7 linked regions of the Homo sapiens genome follow. The protein of the gene in region 1 purifies or fractionates together with the protein of each later gene. This does not show direct contact. Each region holds a gene or a part of one and is shown in the gene's direction. Other genes may lie near its edges.

The links.
Region 2: the proteins of SCCPDH (region 1) and IPO7 purify together in Homo sapiens (co-immunoprecipitation; one large-scale study listed by IntAct). This does not show direct contact.
Region 3: the proteins of SCCPDH (region 1) and TAF1 purify together in Homo sapiens (affinity purification with mass spectrometry; 2 studies listed by BioGRID and IntAct, with this or other methods). This does not show direct contact.
Region 4: the proteins of SCCPDH (region 1) and PDE4DIP purify together in Homo sapiens (affinity purification with mass spectrometry; 3 studies listed by BioGRID and IntAct, with this or other methods). This does not show direct contact.
Region 5: the proteins of SCCPDH (region 1) and SLC25A13 fractionate together in Homo sapiens (co-fractionation; one large-scale study listed by BioGRID). This does not show direct contact.
Region 6: the proteins of SCCPDH (region 1) and SAAL1 purify together in Homo sapiens (affinity purification with mass spectrometry; 4 studies listed by BioGRID and IntAct, with this or other methods). This does not show direct contact.
Region 7: the proteins of SCCPDH (region 1) and PAM16 fractionate together in Homo sapiens (co-fractionation; one large-scale study listed by BioGRID). This does not show direct contact.

The regions. Positions count from the first base shown.
Region 1 is NC_000001.11:246,730,909-246,734,408, forward strand, and holds part of SCCPDH (saccharopine dehydrogenase-like oxidoreductase), read left to right. Parts: intron 1-3,500.
Region 2 is NC_000011.10:9,446,140-9,448,627, forward strand, and holds the end of IPO7 (importin-7), read left to right. Parts: 3' UTR 1-1,988; downstream 1,989-2,488. UniProt on the Homo sapiens protein: Functions in nuclear protein import, either by acting as autonomous nuclear transport receptor or as an adapter-like protein in association with the importin-beta subunit KPNB1.
Region 3 is NC_000023.11:71,379,857-71,383,356, forward strand, and holds part of TAF1 (transcription initiation factor TFIID subunit 1), read left to right. Parts: intron 1-1,886; coding exon 1,887-2,063; intron 2,064-2,679; coding exon 2,680-2,807; intron 2,808-2,904; coding exon 2,905-3,012; intron 3,013-3,134; coding exon 3,135-3,308; intron 3,309-3,500. UniProt on the Homo sapiens protein: The TFIID basal transcription factor complex plays a major role in the initiation of RNA polymerase II (Pol II)-dependent transcription.
Region 4 is NC_000001.11:149,001,428-149,004,927, forward strand, and holds part of PDE4DIP (myomegalin), read left to right. Parts: intron 1-163; coding exon 164-599; intron 600-1,422; coding exon 1,423-1,615; intron 1,616-2,183; coding exon 2,184-2,303; intron 2,304-3,481; coding exon 3,482-3,500. UniProt on the Homo sapiens protein: Functions as an anchor sequestering components of the cAMP-dependent pathway to Golgi and/or centrosomes.
Region 5 is NC_000007.14:96,189,599-96,193,098, reverse strand, and holds part of SLC25A13 (electrogenic aspartate/glutamate antiporter SLC25A13, mitochondrial), read left to right. Parts: coding exon 1-62; intron 63-1,851; coding exon 1,852-1,990; intron 1,991-3,424; coding exon 3,425-3,500. UniProt on the Homo sapiens protein: Mitochondrial electrogenic aspartate/glutamate antiporter that favors efflux of aspartate and entry of glutamate and proton within the mitochondria as part of the malate-aspartate shuttle.
Region 6 is NC_000011.10:18,099,583-18,103,082, reverse strand, and holds part of SAAL1 (protein SAAL1), read left to right. Parts: intron 1-3,500. UniProt on the Homo sapiens protein: Plays a role in promoting the proliferation of synovial fibroblasts in response to pro-inflammatory stimuli.
Region 7 is NC_000016.10:4,341,322-4,344,821, reverse strand, and holds part of PAM16 (mitochondrial import inner membrane translocase subunit TIM16), read left to right. Parts: intron 1-1,530; coding exon 1,531-1,615; intron 1,616-3,317; coding exon 3,318-3,454; intron 3,455-3,500. Other genes in the region: CORO7-PAM16 protein, read left to right, coding at 1,531-1,615, 3,318-3,454. UniProt on the Homo sapiens protein: Regulates ATP-dependent protein translocation into the mitochondrial matrix. Inhibits DNAJC19 stimulation of HSPA9/Mortalin ATPase activity.

The DNA.
Region 1 (3,500 bases):
AATTAGCTGGGCATGGTGGTACACACTTGTAATTGCAGCTACTCGGGAGGCTGACGCAAGAGAATCACTTGAATCCGGGAGGCGGAGGTTACAGTGAGCTGAGATTGCGCCATTGTATTCAAGCCTGGGCAGCAAGAATGAAACTCCAGCTCAAAAAGAAAAAAGAAGAAGATGAGACATGGAGAGCAGGATTGCGGTTCTGACCTTTGAGCCAATTGGCCTCACAGGGGAGAAGTGTCTCCCCGAGATGAAGGATTGCTACTCTGACTGTTCACCTGTCTCAGACAAGCACAGGGTACTAAGTGGAGAAAAATCTAGCAAGTTCATAAAATAGGAATAAGTTAGTGAGAAGTCTCAACTCCAGATTACTCAAAGAAGTGGGCCAGATGTGACAAAATGCAGTAAAAGTAAGGAATGGGCAGACTGGCAAATAGGAAAATGCGTTTTCTTTCCAGAAGGAGCTACGATTATTTTAATAAGCTCATTAATACTTCACTGCAGCCTGCCAGTACTCATAGATACACTGCCTAGCTGATGGGCTCACTAGCCAGACATGAGAAGTGAGCCTGTGGCTGTAAGGCAGAGCCTGGAGGAGCTGGGAGTTGGCCCAGCAGAATGAAGGGAGGGTGCTCCAGGTAGTGGAAGCAAGCACACTGGGTGTGAAGAAGCAGCATGCTTGGGGAATTACATGGAATTTAGAACTGCTGGAACATGAGAATTAAGGGGCTGTGGTATGATATGATACTAAGGACTTTCTGTGACATGCTAAGAAATTTGGACTTTGTACTATATACTGTAGGGATTTTTTTGTTTTTGTTATTTTTATTTAAGTTCTAGGGTACATGTGCACAACATGCAGGCTCGTTACATAGGTATACATGTGCCATGCTGGCCTGCTGCACCCATCAACCCGTCATTTACATTAGGTATTTCTCTCAATGCTATCCCTACCCCTGCCCCCCACCCCACGACAGGCCCCAGTGTATGATGTTCCCCACCCTGTGTCCAAGTGTTCTCATTGTTCAGTTCCCACCTGTGAGTGAGATCATGCGGTATTTGGTTTTCTGTCCTTGTGATAGTTTGCTCAGAATGATGGTTTCCAGCTTCATCCATGTCCCTGCAAAGGACATGAACTCATCCTTTTTTATGCCTGTATAGTATTCCATGGTGTATATGTGCCACGTTTTCTTAATCCAGTCTATCAGATTTGAAGAGTGGATATGTTATAGGAGTGAGGCAGGAGGAAAGGTGACATCACATTTTTATTTTAGAATAACAATTTGTTATGTATTTGGAGATGGGGCTAGCTGGCTGCAGTATAACCAGTTAGGGCCTATTTATAGTAAATTAGATGAGTGTTGACAGGGTCTGAACTAAGATATAATTGTGCAGGGGAGAGGAGACTGATTTGAGATAATTTTAGGAAACTGAATTGATAAAACTTGGTGACTTCCAGGATAGGTAGCATGAAAGACTGCTTCCAGATTTTTTTTTTTTTGAGGCGGTTCTTGCTCTGTCACCCAGGCGGAAATGCAGTGGTGCGATCTAGGCTCACTGCAACCTCCACCTCCCGGGTTCAAGCAATTCTCCTGTCTCAGCCTCCTGAGTAGCTGGAACTACAGGCTCATGCCGCCACACCTAGCTAATTTTTATATTTTTAGTCGAGACAGGGTTTTACCAAATTGGTCAGGCTAGTCTTGAACTCCTGACCTCAGGTGATCCACCTGCCTCGGCCTCCCAAAGTGCTGGGATTACAGGCATGAGCCACCACACCCAGCCTGCTTCCAGGTTTTAACCTGAGAATTATGTGGGGAGTAATGCCATTAAATAAAAAAAAGAAGCCATCTGAGTACCATGTGCCTGGCCCCACACTAAGCTCTTTGTATTCTCTTATTTCATCCTCACAACTACCCAGGGAAGTGAGTGTTGTTATTCATCACCATTCTTTGATTGAAGAGGTTGATGCTTAGAGAGGTAAAGTGACTTGCCCAGGGTCACACAGCTAGTGGCTGCAGAGCCTGGATGTAAGTGTGGCCTGACTTAAAGCCCACACTCTAGACCACTCTGCTGTTCAGCCATTTGCTCAGTTTTGTCTCAGAGTCTTCCCTCTTTTGAGCACAACAGAAAGATGTTAGAAGTGGGACCCAGGCAGGCTGAACTAGAGGCTATACTTTGTTTTTTATTTTTATTTTTTTGAGATGGGGGTCTCACTTTGTTGCCCAGGCTGGAGTAGAGTGGCACGAACACAGCTCACTGCTGCCTCAACCTCCTGGGCTCAAGGGATCTTCCAGCCTCAGCCCTGAAAGTAGCTGGGACTATAGACTGGTGCTATCACATCTGGCTAATTTTTGTATTTTTTGTAGAGACAGGGTTTTGCCCTGTTGCCCAGGCTGGTCTCTAGCTCTTGAGCTCAAGTGATTCACTCACCTTGGCCTCCCAAAGTGTTGGGATTACAGACGTGAGCCACTGTGCCTGGCCATGTGTTTATATATATATGCCATATATATATAGTCCTTATATGTATAATATATATATATAATAAGTATATGGCCTCTATATATAGTCCGTAGCATCATATTTTATACACACACACACACACACACACTTTTTTTCTTAGAGAAATGGGGTCTCAAAGCGATCCTTCTGCCTCAGCCTCCCAAAGTGCTGAGATTACAGGTTTGAGCCACCACACCTGGCCTAGAGGCTACACATTGAAGCACGTGCTAGGAAGTGGAGGAGGAGAAATAGGTTTAGAGAGAGAGATGATGAATTCGGTTTTAGACTTGTTGAAATTGAGGTGTCTGCTAGATACCTTGCATCAAGACAGAAAATACAAATAATATACTGTTTGTATATGATGTTTTATAAGTAAGTGAGAAAATCAGGGGGAAGAGAAAATAAAAGGAAAATGTAGGCAAAGTGAAATTAGTTTTATGTGTGACTCATGCTACATGTCCTGTGCTCTCACTGGTCCTGACCTTTCTAACAAAAAACAGAGGGAAATCCTATCAGTGAGCAACTCTAGACATAGAGGTTGGAGGTCACAGCACAGATTTTATTGAAGTTGGGAGAGTAGGTGAGATTTCCTGGGAGAATGTCTGGGGCAGTGATTCTCCATCTTTGAAGTACACAAGAATCACCTGTGAGGCTTATTTACAATGCAAGTTACTGGAGTCTACCTCAGAAAGCCTGATTCTGGGGGTCTGGAGTGGGAGTGAGTGACCAGCATGCAACCCAGGTGATTCTAAAGCAGGTGGACTCATGGCCAACTTGAGAAATTTGGGGGTGAAATAACTTAAGAACAAGGCCGAGAAAGCTCCAAATGAGTTTTAAAATGGATGTGTGCAAACCCTAAGGATCAACCAGGATAATCCACTGGGTGCAGAAAGCATATGGAGCTTCAACTTCTGTTTTAATCTCAACTTTAGTTCTATTTAAATATGTTTAAAATGTGTGTTTTATTCATTTGGTAGGCAATTTAAGTGATTTATAAGTAAATT
Region 2 (2,488 bases), on another chromosome or scaffold:
ATATAAAGTTCTGCTCTTAAAGAGTTGATCTAAGAGTATGGCTAAACATCTATATATGCAATCTATTAAAAGAACTTAATTCGGCTATTATGTCTTGATTTGATTGCAGTTTTTTCCTAATTATAACAAATTTTTCCTCATTGGCCTGTTTTTAATCCTGTGCCTAGAAGGAGTACAAAATGCACACTTTACAAAATTGATATTTAACACTTACCCACTCCCCTTTCCCCATCTCTTCTACCGCTCTTGTTGATCGTGGTATCTGATCTTGACTAGATAGGCTGAAGGCACATGGTTCCCTCCAAAAACCACTATTGATACCACTACAAAAACAAGCCAGCAAAAAGATACTGTAGAGAGGTTGGCTTGCTTCCCTCTCTTCCTAACTGCATGTTGAAAAATAAGCCGTTATTGATCTTAAACATCGGTCAGATGAGTCATACATTGGGTTATTTTTTATATACATGTATACACAAAATATTTCAAATTGAAAGCAACATCTTAATGGATTCAAAACTATTACAAGCTGTTGTCTAAAACAGGTGAGAAAAAAATTTATAACTGTAAAAACAAATGCACATATTGATATTTAAAATGCGTAATTAAGAAAACCCATTGTTGTTGTGTTTTTCTTGTATACCAATAATTAAGCCACTACTGTTGGCACTGTTTGGTTTTCTATTTTAACACTGAAGGAGTGAAAGTATTTCCTATATTTATGAATTTACTACTAAAATCTTGGCAAAAAAAGAAAAAAATTGTCTAACGTGTGTGGGTGAAAACTGTTAATCAAGTGTTTCTACTCCCCCCCGAAAATCCCCTGAAAGTTGGACACCAACTGTATACCCTAGGTTGCTTAAAGGGATTTCACTATTATATAAAGTCAATAAAAATGAAGTAGTTGTATATATGCAACATTGTGTACAGAGGGGAAATAATGAATAGTATTAAAGAAACATTCTCGTCTTCCTTTACCTTTAATCCCCTAATACCTAGTCTACTTTTTAAATTTTCAGACTTCACTGCTTTTTGAATTCATAATTCTAATTTTCACATTATTGTTAATGGAAAATCATATCTAATAAAGGTTTTAGTTATTCCCATGCACAGTATGAAAATTCTCATTTGCTGAGGTTTTGTTTCAAGAAAATGTATTGGCATGTCTTTGAGAACATGTTTTATTGTCTCCTGTGTCATATAATCCAAACTAATCTCCGTTTACAGACTTTAACTTGAAATTAGACCTTATAATTAAACTATTTAAATAGTGTTCAAATGATAGTTTCTAATGCATCAAATATATACCTCAGTTTTCATGATTTCCTTTAACATTATAATTTGGTATAGATCAAGAATCTTAACATGTATCAGTTTCTAGATGAGGCTGCAGGATTTTTGGAAAACTTTTTGAATGTATTTACAATATTCTCTTGTAATTAGCTACATAGGGACTTGTCTTTTTTTCTTTTTACATACAGCTTTTCCTACAGTTTTATTACCCTGTAATTTTTTTTTAGTTGTAGAAGTTAATTCTGATTTTGTGTGGATTTCAGTATTTGTCTTTGTTAATGGCACATATTAGCATAAATCACTTTTGTAAATGTAAGCTTTCTTTTTTTTTCTTGAAAAAGCCTTTCTATTTATCAGTATTAAATAAAGGAAGTTAATCTGTTTCTCTGCAGGTAATAAAATAGTGACACACTGTATTAAGATAGTGACTGCTATACTCAACTCTGGAAGAGACTAGAGTATAGAGCATGAGTGGCAAAACCACAGCCCTTGGGCCATATGCTGCTATTCAGTCCCAGATGTAGCCCCTGAAGCAAGCATAAAGAAAAATGAATTAAAAATTAAATTAATATGGAAAGTTAAAAAATGGATTACATTAGTATGACTAAACCATGTCTTTGGCAAAGATCTAACACAATGTCTTAAGTATAATAGGTAGTCTCTGTTTGTAAAATAAATGACTTAAATTTAAAACATCAGTTATAAAACTGTCAGTTCTGTTCTTTGTAATTTAAATTTTGGTAAAGATTTTCTGTGACCATTTATCAGTGCCTACTGAATTCTAGCTTTTATCCTTGGTGAGTTGGCCATTCTTGCAATAGCCACTTCACACTTTGGCTCATGGTAAACAAAGGTTACCTGGAAAGTGCTCTTGGAGATAGTACTGGCATCTCTCAATTGGGGGAGTTACCTAAATCAGACCTGCAAATTAGAGAAGGCTAGGATAATAGATTCTTTAACATAAACAGTTAACATTTTAAGTTGACCTGGCAATCCAAAAACTAGCATTAGCAGAAGCAGTATGCTTCTCCAAAGGTCTTCTAGACCCAGGCTGTAACTCAGCTAACTGAAGTGATCCAATACTGTTCTAGGCCCTTCATCCTTTGTATGTAGTATTACCACTGAATAGATTTGTATGTAGTATTATGACTGCATAAAACAAACAATGGGGACAGATATATCCCTTTCCTTTAAGGAC
Region 3 (3,500 bases), on another chromosome or scaffold:
CTCCCAAAGTGCTGGGATTACAGGCATGAGCCACCACGCCTGGCCTGAAGTTAAAGATCTTTCTGAACTATAACAGTACTTTATAGTATATTTTTGTTCCCAAGTCCCTTTGTATTTAGAATTCTAGTTTCCTATTTTTCTCCTTAAATAGGTTTTTTTTTTTAAGGTATGCCATGATTAATGTAAAAAACTTTGAAAATACAGTATAGTGTTAAAGTCACTGGTAATCTATCTGGAGATTATCAACTGTTAAGTTTTGGTGTATTTTCAGTGTTCTGTGTGTGTATGTAGTTGAGCTCATTTCCGTATGTACAGTTTTGCATACTGTGCTTTTCACTTACTAAATATTTTTCTCTCTTTCATTTTTTATTTTTCATTGTTGAGACAGGGCCTCACTTTGTTGCCCAGACTGGTTTCAAACTCCTAGACTCAAGTGATCTTCCTGCCTCGGTCTCCCAAAGTGCTGAGATTACAAGCAAGAGCCACCCCACCCAGCCACATAAATATTTTTGTGTCATTTAGAGTTCTTTATAAAAATGTTTAATGACATGGGAAACTCGTTCATTTTATTTTAATTAAATTATTATTTTTTGTAGAGGTAGAGTCTTGCTATTGTTGGTCAGGCTGGACTCCTGGGCTCAGGTGATCCTCCTGCCTCAGCCTCCCGAGTAGCCAAGACTTCAGGGGCATGCCACCACGTCTGGCTTGAGAAACTCATTTTAAATGGAAATAAAGAAGATATGAAACAACATATATGATATCCTATTAGTGTAAATGAAAAAAAGCAGACTATATAAACATAGAAAGCTGGATTACTTTTATATTTTGGAGGAAAAACAAAATTTTTTCTTTTTTGAGACAAGAGTCTCTGTCGCCCAGGGTGGAATGTGTTGGCGCGATCTTGGCTCACTGCAACATCTGCCTCCCAGGTTGAAGTGATTCTTGTGCTTCAGCCTCCCGAGTAGCTGGGATTATAGGCGTGCACCGCTGTGCCCAGCTAATTTTTGTATTTTTAGTAGAGACGGGGTTTCACCAGGTTGGCCAGGCTGGTCTTGAACTCCTGACCTCAAGTGATCTGCCTGCCTTGGTCTCCCAAAATGCTGGGATTACAGGCGTGAGCCACCACACCCGGATACAAAAATGTCTGATTTTTAAAACCTAAGAAATAGGTTTTTTCCCTTCCATTCTGCCCACTTTATGGGTTATATATTACTATTACGAATGTTTCATAATTTACCGATAACATGTTGCATTTGTTAATACAATTTATTACCATTTATTGTTAGCATACTTTACCATATCATTTATTGTCATAATTTAACCAATTCCTTCTTAAACATTTAGGCTATTTAAATTTCAACTATTATAAACAGTATTGCAGTGGACATTTTTGACTGCAACATTATTTTTATTTATTTATTTTTTGAGACAGAATTTCACTCTTGTTGCCCAGGTTGGAGTGCAATGGCACGATCTCAGCTCACTGCAATCTCTGCCTCCTGGGCTCAGGTGATTCTCCTGCCTCAGCCTCCTGAGTAGCTGGGATTACAGGCATGTGCCACCACACCCAGCTAATTTTTGTATTTTTTGTAAAGATGGGGCTTCTCAATGTTGGTCAGGTTGGTCTTGAACTCCTGACCTGAAGTGATCCACCTGCCTCGGCCTCCCAAAATGCTGTGATTACAGGTGTGAGCCACCGTGCTGAGCCTGCAACATTATTTTAAAGTGAGAAATACACTGTGTAGGTTCCTTTTCAGTGGACACATGAATAACTCCACTAACTCGCTCTACTAACATGAGTAACTCTTTTTATCTTTGCCAGAATCTTGATTGAAAGGGGCATAAATGTTTTCTCTGTTACTATTTCCTCCTTGCACTTTGACTAGGTTTTGCAGCCACTCTTGATGATGACAAACCTTGGTACTCCATTTTTCCCATTGACAATGAGGATCTGGTATATGGACGCTGGGAGGACAATATCATTTGGGATGCTCAGGCCATGCCCCGGCTGTTGGAACCTCCTGTTTTGACACTTGATCCCAATGATGAGAACCTCATTTTGGGTATATTACTGGCAGAGGCCAGTGTTTCTTCTCCTTTGAAAACTTGCTGTTAATGTCAACGGGCAGGAGGAAATCAGAAGGGTTGGAGATGATTAGGACTAGAAACCTGTAGGTAGCGGCTTGAGAGAGCGAAGTTTTGGCTGTTAGTTTATATTATTTGTGTATATGCTTAGGGAACACTCACGTAGGAATGTTGGAAAGTTGCAACTTTGAGATGTCAAGAGCATAGTTTGTTCCGTTAGTGAATCATGGACTCGAAACTTCTAGGTAGCAGTTTGAGAGAGCAAAATTGTGGCAGTTAGTTTTTATTATTTGTGTATTCCCTAGGGAAAACTCATGTAGGACTGTCGGAAAGTAGTACCTTTGAGATGTCAAGCGTGTAGTTCACTTAGTGAATCATGTACTAGAAGTGATTTGGGATGGGATGAAAAGATACAGGTGTAGTTCAGTTAGTAAATCGTGGACTAGAAGTTACCTGGGGGGGGGTGGGATGAAAGGTCTAGTTAAGACCTTCACTGGAACATCCGTCACCTTAAAGAAGAAAACTGGATACTTGTCTGTAGGAAAGGTGAATCTTCAGGGAGAGCAACTCAAGTGATTTTTGTTTTATTCTCAGAAATTCCTGATGAGAAGGAAGAGGCCACCTCTAACTCCCCCTCCAAGGAGAGTAAGAAGGAATCATCTCTGAAGAAGAGTCGAATTCTCTTAGGGAAAACAGGAGTCATCAAGGAGGAACCACAGCAGGTGTGTGAAGAAAAAAGGGGCTTGGTGTTTAGAAGAACAAAGAAAGGTAATAGAGAAGGATAGTCTGACCGAGATTTGTTTGATTATCTATCATTAGAACATGTCTCAGCCAGAAGTGAAAGATCCATGGAATCTCTCCAATGATGAGTATTATTATCCCAAGCAACAGGGTCTTCGAGGCACCTTTGGAGGGAATATTATCCAGGTACAAATAGTGTCTTTTCTGTGATAGAGGAGAACCCCATGGCTTTGTTCTGACGGAGGATATGGGAAAATCTTGCTTAGGATGGAATTAGCTAATTTTAACCCTTCTATTTCCTGTTTTAGCATTCAATTCCTGCTGTGGAATTACGGCAGCCCTTCTTTCCCACCCACATGGGGCCCATCAAACTCCGGCAGTTCCATCGCCCACCTCTGAAAAAGTACTCATTTGGTGCACTTTCTCAGCCAGGTCCCCACTCAGTCCAACCTTTGCTAAAGCACATCAAAAAAAAGGCCAAGGTATAATTGAATTCTGGTTAGAAAACAGCTATAAAGGATATTGGGGTATAAATTAAGGGAATGTACCAGGTATTAGATTGTATTAGGGAATTGGTTATTTTCTCAGATGTGATAGAATGTTATTTTGGTTATTTAGGAGAATGTCTTTATTGTTAGGTGATGCATGTGAAAATATTTAAAGGTGAGGTGTCA
Region 4 (3,500 bases), about 98 Mb from region 1:
TGGCTTTCTTGTATATAAAATTAGGGGGCTGTGGTAGGTCTCAGGTTGCTTCATGCTCTGGGGTAAGTCTGAGTTAATTGCGGGCTGAGATGTTGGTAAGAGGTAGTATTAGGAACTGTTGTGAGGACCAGACCTAGCCCTCAATTAAGTGTGTTTCCTGCAGGAACACCATGCTGAGCCTTTGCCTTGAGAATGCGGAGCTGAAAGAGCAGATGGGAGAAGCAATGTCTGATGGATGGGAGATCGAGGAAGACAAGGAGAAGGGCGAGGTGATGGTTGAGACTGTGGTAACCAAAGAGGGTCTGAGTGAGAGTAGCCTTCAGGCTGAGTTCAGAAAGCTCCAGGGAAAACTGAAGAATGCCCACAATATCATCAACCTCCTCAAAGAACAACTTGTGCTGAGTAGCAAGGAAGGGAATAGTAAACTTACTCCAGAGCTCCTTGTGCATCTGACCAGCACCATTGAAAGAATAAACACAGAACTGGTTGGTTCCCCTGGGAAGCACCAACACCAAGAGGAGGGGAATGTGACTGTGAGGCCTTTCCCCAGACCCCAGAGCCTTGACCTTGGGGCTACCTTCACAGTGGATGCCCACCAAGTAAGTGTGGGCTTAGATTGAGTGAAAAACAATTGGAGAAGGGCTTGAGATGACAGTGTTTACCTTAAAACATTCTCCCATATGAATCAGGAGGTACCAAGAGAAGGGTCTCTTTGTACCACAAACAATAATAGTAATATTCTGCCTACATTCAGCCTTTAGAAAGGCTTTTATAACATAAATATTTCTTGAGTACTTAATTTTTCAGATAACACACTAGGCATTGGCATGGGGCAATAAAACCAATGGCTGCCCCTGAGATACTTAATATTGTCGGGAAAGATGGCACACAAACAGGTAATTTTAACAGGATGTGGTAACTGCTGTAACATAGGGATGCATCAGGTTATGAGGCAGCCCAGACAAGTGGTATGTAATGACATCCCTTATCACTGCCATTTTTTTGTCACAGCTCATCACAGGTGTCTGTTCCTGGGCTTCAGATGGGTTACTGGGATCCTCTTTAGGGAAGGAGCCATGCTGAAGATTCAGTGAAATGGAGAATACAGGGATTCTGAGAGAATCAATGGGACAGAATGTGAGGGGAGATGAGTGGTCTCTTTTTGACCACTGAGAAAACATTTCCTGAGAGCTCCTCTGTAGACTTGATTGGTGCTGTGCTGTGTGCTGTGGATACAGATATGAAGAAAACATTATCCCAGCGCTCCAGGAGCTCCATCTGGAAAGCAAGTCACTGCCAAATGGCATGAGAAGTGCTGTGACAGACTTGAGTAAAGTCCACAGGGTTCAGAAGGGGCGGTGGTCGTCACTGCATGGGGGTGACCTCAGACTGTCCTGATCCCTGTATTGGCCCCTTTCACAGTTGGATAACCAGTCCCAGCCTCGTGACCCTGGGCCTCAGTCAGCGTTTAGCCTACCAGGGTCCACCCAGCACCTGCGCTCCCAGCTGTCACAATGCAAACAACGCTATCAAGATCTCCAGGAGAAGCTGCTGCTATCAGAAGCCACTGTCTTTGCTCAGGCTAACGAGCTGGAGAAATACAGAGTTATGCTTAGTAAGTAACTATGACTTACTAGTAAAGAAAACTAGCCTATATGTCTTATAAGTTCTGTATGTTCTATACCGACATAACGTGGTTATTGAGCACACGAAGTGTGGCTAGTGCAACTTGGACATTTGGTTTTATTTAATTTTAGTTGATGTAGTATAAAGTGGCCATATGTGGCTGCTAACTACCTTATTGGACAGTACAGGTCTAGGGTCTTGGGACTCTAAATTAGTTCAGCTCCATTCAACATTTATTGAACCCCTGCGGATAAAGCACTTGCCAGCTTCAATGGGGCTGCTAGAGATGATAGTGTACAATCCCTGACTTACAGATATCTGGTCCCAACTAAAGCCTGGGTTATCTGAAGGGGAGATAATGGCAAATGCAGGCTCCTCCTTTGGAAAGAAATTCTGCTTCCTGGAGCTGGTGATCTCTTCTCCCACCAGTTCAGAGAAGCTTCTCTCCCACTGTGGATCTGCCTTCCGTGCCTCAAAAGGTTAGGGTATGTGCCATTGAGGCTGAGGGCATATGTGGGAAATTCAGACATTCTGTAACACCTGCTTCTCTTCCCAAGCAGGTGAATCCTTGGTGAAGCAGGACAGCAAGCAGATCCAGGTGGACCTCCAGGACCTGGGCTATGAGACTTGTGGCCGAAGCGAGAATGAGGCTGAACGGGAGGAAACCACCAGTCCTGGTAAGAGCACAGGGTGTGGGGCTCACCCCTCCCTGGAGTCAGCTGTCACATTTGGATGCTGTTGGCCAATTCCACACCTGACAAGTATTGGGGAAGAGGAGGACAGGAGGTTAATAGGAGAAATCTTACCCAAAATGAGGCTGAGTATAAGTTTGAATTTCTACAATTAGTTTTTGGCATACTGCTAATAACAATAATAATATAAAATTCTATCCAACTGATTATTATAGAAATACTAAGGCCTACTTAGAGACCAGATAAGGTTTTAGAAACATGCAAGCCATAAATTAAAAATAATTTTGTTTTGCATTATAAAAAGACTACAACTATAGGGCCACCCACCACATTGAAAACCAGAAGAGAAGAAAAACACAATCTCTCTCATTCTTGAGGCAGTGTAGTGTGGCAGTTAAGAGACAAGATCCTGGGGCCAGACTGGTTGGTTCAAATCCCAGTTTGAAAACTTTCCTATGTCCCAGTTTCTTCATGTGTTAAAATAGTAATAAAGGAACTACCTACCCCATCAGGTACTAAGGTCAATTAAATGAGTAAATTCTTATAAAATGCTTTAGAACAGTGCCTGGCATCTGGTAAAATGCCATGGATTAGTTCTCATTCTGACTACCACTGCCCTAATACACTGATGTTAACATGCTGATATATTTATTTGAAGCCTTATTTTCCTATGCCTATTTTTCATACAGTTGTAACCCAATAAACTTTTAAATTATAGTAAAATTTAAAGAGCATTAAACTTTCAGCATGCAGTAATAGCTTGTCCTACATTCTTGTGGCCATCCTAAATAGATAAGGCCATGTTAATGTCTTAAGAAACACCAGTGTGTGTGGAATGAACACAGGACATTGGAGGATTTGAATTCTGGCTCTGCCATGTGCTAGTTTGAGTGATCTAGAACAAGCTAGTTTACCACCTCTCTTTAAGTTTTGGTTTCCCAGTCAGTAAAATAGAAAGTGATGAAACCTAACTTGTAGGTATAAGGAAGATAAGAAATATTGTATTTGAATGCCTAGTACAGTGTCAGGGTTGAATAAAGTACTACTTCAACTTTTTCCCTAGTAATTATTGTCCTCATGACCAAACCTGCCTCCTCTCAAAGGCAGTGGCCACAACAGCACATCCAACTTTTATTTAGGAAGACATCTTTGTCTTTTTTCAGAGTGTGAGGAGCACAACAG
Region 5 (3,500 bases), on another chromosome or scaffold:
ACATCATGGTCACCATCCGCCCCCATGTCTTGACTCCTTTTGTAGAAGAATGTCTAGTAGCTGTAAGTTGTAACTTGCCCTAATGAAGTGGTTTAACTCAGTAAATAAGGAATTATAAAAACAATTCTTATAAGTTATGTAGTGTTTTTTTTCTGTTGCAAACACTAACATTTTAATGTGATCACATACATTACTAAACTCAAACAAAGAGTGTGTTTTGGCTAGTTTTAGTGGGTAGGTTAATTTGTTGTCTGGGTAATACGGAATATCTTCGAGAAATACATTAGCTTTTTAAAGATAAAAGGAAAAACAGATTTGTGATCTCATGTTAATTTTGTTTTAGATTTTGAAGTATATCAAGGGCTGATTTTTGCTAATCTTCTTAGATGCTCTAAGGCAAAAAAAAAAAAAAAATAGTGCACATGTATATCATTTGTTAGAGTAGTTAGCACAACAGAAACTCCAAACCTTAGATTCCCTTTCACCGTGTATGTGTCGAGGCCACAGAGTTACATGTGACAGCAGAGCCCTGCAGTTGTGTTTCATGGAGCCTCCCTCCTCCAGGTGTCAGCTGCTGTCCTTCCCTCATGGGCCCTGGGGATGTCCTGCAACATTCTGTGGTGGTGGTTCTTAAGACCTGCTCGTGGAGCACCAGAATCACCACTAAAAACTATTAAAACTACAGATTCTGAGATCTCTTCTAGGCCTATCATACACCATCTATAGGCGATGAGGTCTTAGAATCTAATTTTGTAAAGCTTCTGGGTGATTTTGGTAATAACTCAGTTTTAGGACCAATAGCCCGTGGTAACTCTCCTTTTGTTAATCCCAGGGAGAATACTGTTTTCACCATCATCTGGGTTTCCCACAGTGCTTACCATAGGCAGGAACTCAGAGTAGCCTTTCAGTTTCCTTTCTTCCCCCAAGTCCTTAGTTCTAGAGACATGGTATTCCAACGAGGCCTCTTCCATTCTGGCACTGTGTTAATCTAACTCCTTTTCTTGGGCGCCCCCTTCTCTACTCCATACTAAACTTTCATGTCAGCTATTTTAAATGATTACTAAGTGAAGATTTATGTGGTTGTTACCTTGTAAAGAAGTGCTTTCCTAATAAAAATATTTTGCCTTGCTAGGGAAGGATAGAATTTGAAACTCCAAACTGAAGTCTCATTCATAATGGACATTCTGTCTGTTTCCCTTGTCCCCTGTGAAGAAATATGGTTTCTTAAAAATTCTGATTATCAGAATTTTTACTAGTCTTAACCCCCCATGAAAGTATATGGCATCTCATAATTTTACCATAATATGCTTGTTTGCTAGAAATCCCACCAATGTAAAGTCTGTACCTAAATGATTATTTATTACTGGTTATAAGTAACTTGACAAGTCTTGATATTAATGTTACATTGACTACTTTTCATAGTATGTTTGCATTGATACAATACAGTTTTTCATGCATAAGCACACACATGTGTGCATATGTACTTATAGTTTTTGCATGTTTAAGCCTTTAAGATTTGCTCATTAGATGAAATAAACCAACTTATAAAACATTTCCAATTGAAATTTGAACTCTAAATTACTACTAGTCCTGTTATAATCCTACACATGTATTTATTTAGTTTTCTAGGAGTTGTGTATGGAGAGTACAAGTTCTGGTCATGATTAGTTGCAGTTGCTTCTAAAAATCATTTATAGCTTTTTTTTAATGCAAAAGAAAAATACTTATAGTCATTTCTTCTTGTACATGCATTTTTGATTACTTTCAAACTAGTTTTAGATGTATGTACTTCTGAATCATCTATAAATCTTTTGTATATTTTTCTTCTCTCTTGTTTTCAATTTATTTGAGGCTGCTGGAGGTACCACATCCCATCAAGTTAGTTTCTCCTATTTTAATGGATTTAATTCGCTCCTTAACAACATGGAACTCATTAGAAAGATCTATAGCACTCTGGCTGGCACCAGGAAAGATGTTGAAGTGACTAAGGGTGAGTGAGAATATATCTGAATTCTAGCCTGCAAGTATTGTGGTGTATTATTATTAGGGTGAAGAAGGCAACTAGTACTTTATTATTTTTCTATCCCATTGACACATATTAACTATATGATAACGTGTGTTTTTCATCCTTTGATCAGACAAACAAAAGCAAACAAAACAATCTTCACCAAGTTTTAAACAAACTGGGCCCAGCTTGGTGACTCACACCTGAAATCCCAGCAGTTTGGGAGGCCGAGGTGGGTGGATCACCTGAGATCAGGAGTTCGAGACCAGCCTGGCCAAGAGGGTGAAACCCTGTCTCTACTAAAAATACAAACATTAGTCGGGTGTGGTGGTGGGCACCTGTAATCCCAGCTACTTGGGAGGCTGAGGCAGAAGAATCGCTTGAACCTGGGAGGCGAAGGTTGCAGTGAGCCGAGATCACGCCACTGCACTCCAGCCTGGGCAACAAGAGCAAAATGCCATCTCAAAAATAAATAAATAAATAAATAAATAAACTGAAGACACCCTTTGAATAAGGAAAACATGTAAAGTTTCTTAAATATTTTCAAATCTTGCTACAGCTTGAGCTAAATTGGCAACCTCTAAGGAAGCCTTCAGGTGTATATGAGGAATTCCATAAAGTTGCATTGGTGACAGTGTAAGTTGGTCTGTAGGCTTGGGACAGGATATTATCAGCATTGTAATGGGATTAAGAAAAAAAATCAGAGCCGGTGCGGTGGCTCATGCCTGTAATCCCAGCACTTTGGGAGGCCGAGGCGGGCAGATCATGAGGTCAGGAGATTGAGACGATCCTGGCTAACACGGTGAAACCCCGTCTCTACTAAAAATGTATATATAAAAAAATTAGCAGGGCATGGTGGCACACACCTGTAGTTCCAGCTCCTTGGGAGGCTGAGGCAGGGGAATCGCTTGAACCCAAGAGTCGGAGGTTGTAGTGAACCGAGATTGCACCACTGCACTCCAGCCTGGGCAACAGAGCAAGACTCTGTCTCAAAAAAAAAAAAAAAAAAAATCAGAATTCCCTTAGGAATTCCACACCTTCATTAATATAACCACCTAAATTAATATAATTAATAATCCTAATTTAACCAGTTAATTAGATTAATATAACTTCCCCTCCTGGGACCTATGCATATGAAGTTTCATATATGATTCCTTATTTTCTCTGATTGGCAATTTGAATAACATCAGATGACCCCAAGCTTTTAAACTGTATATTCAAGAACATATTCTGCACACGCTTTCCAAATGGATGCAAGAACTGCAAAAATTCTTACCTTATTTGGATTGACTTGAATTCTACAACTGATGATAATAATAAAGTTTTGTGATGTTCACTCATTCCAGTGCCTTGAGTTAATGCTGAATTTAGTGGCTATTTCTTCTTGAATCTTTCCCTTTTAACTTTTCTTCCATACAGAGGAGTTTGTTCTGGCAGCTCAGAAATTTGGTCAGGTTACACCCATGGAAGTTGACATCTTGTTTCAGTTAGCAGA
Region 6 (3,500 bases), on another chromosome or scaffold:
GGGCTATAAATGCTAAACTTCTGTCTTTGAGGCTGGAGGATTTGAGCTCTCAACAGATTCGGACTAAATACGTAGCTCTTATGAATGTATTCCTATACACATGTAGGCCGGGAAAGTTCTGATACTTACCTACCTAAAGAGAGCTCTGGCCATATATTTGACAGCAGGTTAGGAGTTAGAAGACCACTGATATACCATGATAATATTAGAAGGAAAGGACAATAAATAATTATATGTCTGTAATTGCAGTATTAATCATAGTGTTTTAATATCTGTATTTTATTCTATAGCTCAAAAGCATTTTCATATATAGTATTCTATTTGATCTTCACAATAACCCTGTGATGTAGGTAGTACCCTTATTTTACAGTTAAGAAAATAGAGGCCAAAAGACATTAAATGACCTATGTAATCTTTCTTGTTTTATTACCTGGACTTTAGCAATAGCTTCCTGATTAAAATCCTTGTTTTAGTCTCTTTCACCTCCCTTCTGTCCTCTACATTGCCACCCGTGTTACCTTTTTTTCCGGAAATACAGACTTAATTGTACTCATTTTCTTAAAAATTGTCAATGGCTATTCATTGTTTCAGTCATTTTATTTAAAACTTTATTGAGGTATAATTAACACCAAAAAACTGCATATTGTTTTGAAGTATCATTGACATTGATTTTTTTTTTTTTTTTGAGATGGAGTCTCTATCACCTAGGCTGGAGTACAGTGGTGCGATCTCAGCTCACTGCAATCTCCGCCTCGAGGGCTCAAGTGATTCTCCTGCCATAGCGTCCAGAGTAGCTGGGAGTACAGGTGTGAGCCACCAATCCCTGCGAATTTTTATATTTTTAGTGGAGACAGGGTTTTACCCTGTTGGCGAGGCTGGTCTTGAACTGCTGACCTCAAATGATCCATCCTCCTCGGCCTCCCAAAGTGCTGGGATTATAGGAGTGAGTCACCGCACCCAGCCAATAAACTTTGACGGATGTGTACGCAGATTAAGCTGTCACTGTAATCAGGATACAGCGCATACCCATCACCCCTGAAAGTTTCTTTATGGTCCTTGGTAGTCTCTTCCTCTTGCCTCTCCATTCCTCCATCCCCTCCAGGCAACCACTGATCTGCTTTCTGTCACTACAGATTAGTATGTATTCTAGAGTTTTATATGAATGTGCTCATATGCTTTTTTTGGTCTGGCTCTTTTATACAGCATAATTATTTTGAGATTCATCCATGTTGTGTATATCAGTGGCTTTTTTTTTTTTTTTTATTGCTGAATGGTATTCCATTATATGTATATACCACAATTTATTTTTTACCTGTTGATGAATGTTGGAGTTGTTTAAGGCTTATTACAGATAAAGCTGTTGTGAACTTTTGTATACAAGTGTGTATGGACATATACTTTGTTTTTCCTTGGGTGAATACCTAGAGTGGTGTGTTAGTCCATTCTCATACTGCTATAAGGAAATACCTGAGACTGGGTAATTTATGAAGGAAAGAGGTTTAATTGACTCTCAGTTCAGTATGGCTGGGGAGGCCTCAGGAGACTTACAATCATGGCAGAAGGGGAAGGGGAAGCAGGCACCTTATTCACACGGTGGCAGGAAGGAGAAGTGCGAGCAGGGGAAATGCCAGACGCTTATAAAACTATCAGATCTCATGAGACTCACTCATTATCATGAGAACAGCATGGGGGAAACCACCCCCGTGATTCACTTACCTCCACCTAGTCTTGCCCTTGATACGTGGGGATTATGGGGATTGCAATTCAAGGTCAGATTTAGGAGGGGACACAGAGCCAGACCATATATCAAGTGGCATGGCTGGATCATACGGTAGGTGTATGCTTAACTTTTTAAGAAACTTTCAATTTGTTTTCCTAAGCAGTTTTTTACCATTTTACATAACCACAAGCAGTGTATGAGACATAATTCCAGGTCCAATTTCTCCTCAACCTCACCAACACTTAGTATGGTCAGTCTTCTTAATTTTAGCCATGCTAATAAGTATGTAATGATAGCTCATTGTGATTATAATTTGGACTTCCTTAATTCCTAATGATGAGCATCTTTTCATGTGTTTATTTGTACTCTGTGTATCTTTTTTGGTGAAGTACCTGTTTGAATCTTCTGCCTGCTTTTTAATTGTGTTGTTTTCTTACATTTTCTTCTAAAAGTTTTATAATTTTAGGTTTTACATATAAGTCTGTGATCCATTTTGAGTTGATTTTTGTATAGTATATGGTGCAAGGATGGATGAAGTTTATTTTTTTGCTTATGGATATTTAATTGTTCAAGTTCATTTGTTGAAAAGACGATCCTTTCTCCACTAATTGCTTTTGTGTCTTTGTCAAAAATCAGTTGTCCACATACTTTATAGTTTGAAATCTTTTCTTTTTAAAGATAGACATCAAGCACTATAGAATTTTCCCTAAATATTTATGCTTTACCAGTATTCCACAATTTCTGATATGCTGTGTTTACAATTTTTTTTGAGACAGAGTCTCGCTCTGTATTTTTTGTAGAGATGGGGTTTTGCCATGTTGGCCAGGCTGGTCTTGAACTCCTGGCCTCAAGTGATCCCCCTGCCCCGGCCTCCCAAAGTGCTGGGATTACAGGCGTGAGCCACCATGCCCGCAGAAGTTCAGAATACTTTCTAATATTCTTTACTTTTTCTTTGGTTTATAGGTAAGTTTCAAATATTTGGGAATGTTTCAGTTATCTTTCTCTTGCTGTGGTTGGTGAACACTGAATCCTTTTAAATGTGTTGAGATTTGTTTTATAGCCCAGAATATGGTTTTAAGTAAACCTGAAATATTTACCATGTTGACTTAAAAAGCATGTGTGTTCTGCTGTTGCTGGGTGGAATATCTTATTCTCAATGTCAGATCAGGTTGGTTGAGAGTATTGTTCAGATCTACTTTCTATTCTACAATTATTGATAAATTATGGTTAAACAAATTTTTTTAAAAAGAAATAAAACCTGTGTTTTAAATGAACTCTTAGGGTGAAAGTCTCAGTTTTAAAATTGAGAAAACAGCGCTACTGTTTGAAGGAGGTTATTGGTGCAGGGCAAAGTCATGTTCTTTGGCCTCCTTTTGCTCCCTTACAAGAGGTGCCCTTGAGGCACCACTCAGAACTGAGCTCTCCACTGACAATTGAGGTCCCTGGCGCAAAGTCTGGTGAGTTTATATCTCAGTCTTGTCGCCTATCGTTCTGTAACCATGAATTCAGTGTGCGAGGACCAGAGACCTCCAGATACTTCCTGCACTTTCACGTGTCCATGGGCACTATTCATGCCGCTCTGCTTAGAATGGCTTCCAGCTGGCAAAATCCTTCTCATTGTTTATGGCCCGGCTTCAATGTCACCTCCTCTGTGATGCCACCCCAGACACTCCAGTCAGAATTAACCTGTCTTGTTTTGGTGTTCCCACAGAATTGCTTCACTCTGTTACATGTGTCCTCTGATGGATTTAAATTCCTTCTCATCAAAGCATAATGTCAC
Region 7 (3,500 bases), on another chromosome or scaffold:
CACACAATCCCCTCCTCTCACACAATCCCCTCCTCTCACAGAACCCCCTCCTCTCACGGAACCCCCTCCTCTCACAGAACCCCCTCCTCTCACGGAACCCCCTCCTCTCACGGAACCCCCTTCTCTCACGGAACCCCCTCCTCTCACAGAACCCCCTCCTCTCACGGAACCCCCTCCTCTCACGGAACCCCCTCCTCTCACAGAACCCCCCCTCACACAATCCCCTCCTCTCACGGAACCCCCTCCTCTCACAGAACCCCCTCCTCTCACGGAACCCCCTCCTCTCACACAGTCCCCTTCTCTCACAGAACCCCCTCCTCTCACAGAACCCCCTCCTCTCACAGAACCCCCTCCTCTCACACAGTCCCCTCCTCTCAGAGAACCCCCTCCTGTCACACAGTCCCCTCCTCTCACAGAACCCCCTCCTCTCACACAGAACCCCCTCCTCTCACACAGAACCCCCTCTTCTCACACAGAACCCCCTCCTCTCACGGAACCCCCTCCTCTCACAGAACCCCCTCCTCTCACACAGAACCCCCTCCTCTCACAGAACCCCCTCCTCTCACGGAACCCCCTCCTCTCACGGAACCCCCTCCTCTCACGGAACGCCCTCCTCTCACACAGAACCCCCTCCTCTCACCGAATCCCATCTCAGTCTTGAGTTTTCCCTCGACTCTGTTGCTTCCGCTCACATCTTAGTGAGTCCCCAGGGCCTCTGCGGGGCATGGAATCACACGTGCAGTGTTCCGGCATGTTCAGCCTGGTGTGTGACAGTGGGGTTCCCTGCCAGGCCAGCAGTGTGCTCTGACTCGGGGCAGGGACCAGGTTCTGTGTAGCTTTGTGCTCAAGTGCTGAGCAGAGTAGACTCTCAGCAGATGTTTGAATGAATGGGTGAACCAATGGCTGCACAAATGAACGAGCCTGACTCTCCCTCATGATTTGGTCCATAGTGTGTTTAAATACCCTCCTAGTGGGCTTTTAGCTCCTTGAAGATGGAAACAGGTTTGCATAGTAAGTTTGTTTTATTGAATGGAATGGACTTAAAGTCTTCGGACTTGGGAGAATTAGGACAGATCTGTTTCCCCGTTGGTAAAGTAAAGGTTGGGCCTGATGATCTCAGAAACTCAGGAAGAGTGATGGTCGGCCCCAGGGTCGAGAGTGAGTTACTGCCAGGTCCAGGGCTGTCCCTGTGTTCTGGCTCCCAGACCACAGTGTTTCTTCCTGAAGCCGGTGGTTGCAGCCACTTTGCCTTGCTCCTCTACGCCTTTCCTGAAGGATGAGGTGGGGCCAGTCTGCCTCTGGGAGCTCGGTCAAGTTCACCCGCCTGCCTGCCTGTCCAGTGAGTAACTAAGCCACCCACCATGGAAGCTTTCATTCAGGGTGCTTTGGAGGGGTTGGCCTGGGGCTGCAGCTCTGTGCTTCATGACCTCGGGTCTCCGGGAGCCTTGCCCCTCGGCAGCCGTTTCCAGGGCCCATCTCTGTGGGCCCACAGGGAGTGGCCTGCTAACCGGGTGCCTGCTTTGCCCACAGGCCAAGTACCTGGCCCAGATCATTGTGATGGGCGTGCAGGTGGTGGGCAGGGCCTTTGCACGGGCCTTGCGGCAGGAGTTTGCAGGTAAGCATGGGTCCGTCTCCCCTGTGGGCTGGGAGTTCCTCTCCAGGTCAGATTTTCCCCGTAGCCATGGGCACCTCAGGCCTGGCGGTTCTGAAGTGTGCGTGGCCTGAGGCACTTCCCATGGTGGGGGGTGATGCCAGACCGGGGCATTCTTCAGTGGTACCTGGTTAGCAAGAGCATCCAGGGCAGGAGCTGGCACACTGGCCCATCTGGATACCTGATTTTGTAAACTTGTTTTTTCTTTTTTTGGAGATGGAGTCTCACTCTGTCGCCCAGGCTGGAATGCAGTGGGGCAATCTTGGCTCACTGCAACCTCTGCCTCCTGGTTCAAGTGATTCTCCTCCCTCAGCCTCCTGAGTAGCTGGGAATACAAGCACCCGACACCATACCAGGCTAATTTTTGTATTTTTAGTAGAGACGGGGTTTCACTATGTTGGCCATGCTGGTCTGGAACGCCTGACTTCAGGTGATCCGCCTGCCTCAAAGTGCTGGGATTACAGGTGTGAGCCACAGCGCCCGGCCCTGGTTTTGTAAATAAATCTTTTTTTTTTGAGACGGAGTTTTCGCTCTTGTTGCCCAGGCTGGAGTGCAATAGTGCGATCTTGGCTCACTGCAACCTCTGCCTCCCGGGTTCAAGCAATTCTTCTGCCTCAGCCTCCTGAGTAGCTGGGACTACAGGCATGCGCCACCATGCCCGGCTAATTTTGTATTTTTAGTAGAGACGGGGTTTCTCCGTGTTGGTCAGGCTGGTCTTGAACTCCCAACCTCACGTGATATGCCCACCTCGGCCTCCTGAAGTACTGGGATTACAGGCGTGAGCCACCGCACCCAGCCCTTTTGTTTTCTTTTGAGACGGAGTCTCACTGTGTTGCCCAGGCTGGAGTGCAATGGTGCGATCTTGGCTCACTGCAACCTCTGCCTCCCGGGTTCAAGCAATGCTCCTGCCTCAGCCTCTCCAGTAGCTGGGACTACAGGCATGTGCCACCACACCCAGCTGATTTTTGTATTTTTAGTAATTTTGTATTTTACAGGTTTTCATCATTTTGGCCAGGATGGTCTCGATCTCTTGACCTCGTGATCTGCCCTCCTTGGCCTCCCAAAGTGCTGGGATTACAGGCGTGAGCCACTGTGCCCGGCCGACAGGCTGCTTTCAAGGCAGAGTTGAATGGTTCCAGTGTAGGCTCATTAGCCCGCAAAGCCTAAAATAGCTACTCTCTGAGCCTTTAGGAAAAGTTTAGCAGCTCCTGATTCTAGGTTCTGGGGTCACTGAAAGGGGAGAGGTCACCCAAGGCAGTGGCTTTGGTGGTCTAGGTGACAGGTGGGCAGCTGGGCCCCTGCAGAGCCCTCTCATGCCCGCAGCCCCACTATACAGTCTCCATCGTAGCCTAAAGCTCCCCAATTTGCTGTTCCCCTGGGATATGGGGGTTGGGGGACAGGGTCATCTCATGGTCTAGGTTGGGGACCAGGAGCCAGGATTAGCGGTCAGATCCTGCCCTTACCCTCCAGTGAGGCACGTCTGTCCTCACTTTCCCAGCCTCTACCCCCTAAAAAGGAAACCACTCCTGGAGAAGAGGCAGCTCCTAGCCACCTGTCCCTGTGTCTCTCATCCTGTGCTGGTGGCAGGGGTGAGCCACCAACTCGGAAGGCCCAGGGTGAAGTGTGGGCTGCTGAGGACTGAGCGATCACCCACATGTCCACACAGCCAGCCGGGCCGCAGCTGATGCCCGAGGACGCGCTGGACACCGGTCTGCAGCCGCTTCCAACCTCTCCGGCCTCAGCCTCCAGGAGGCACAGCAGATTCTCAACGTGTCCAAGCTGAGCCCTGAGGAGGTCCAGAAGGTGAGGCCACTGGGCCACCCCAAAGTTTGAGAGGGAGAGGCTGCCA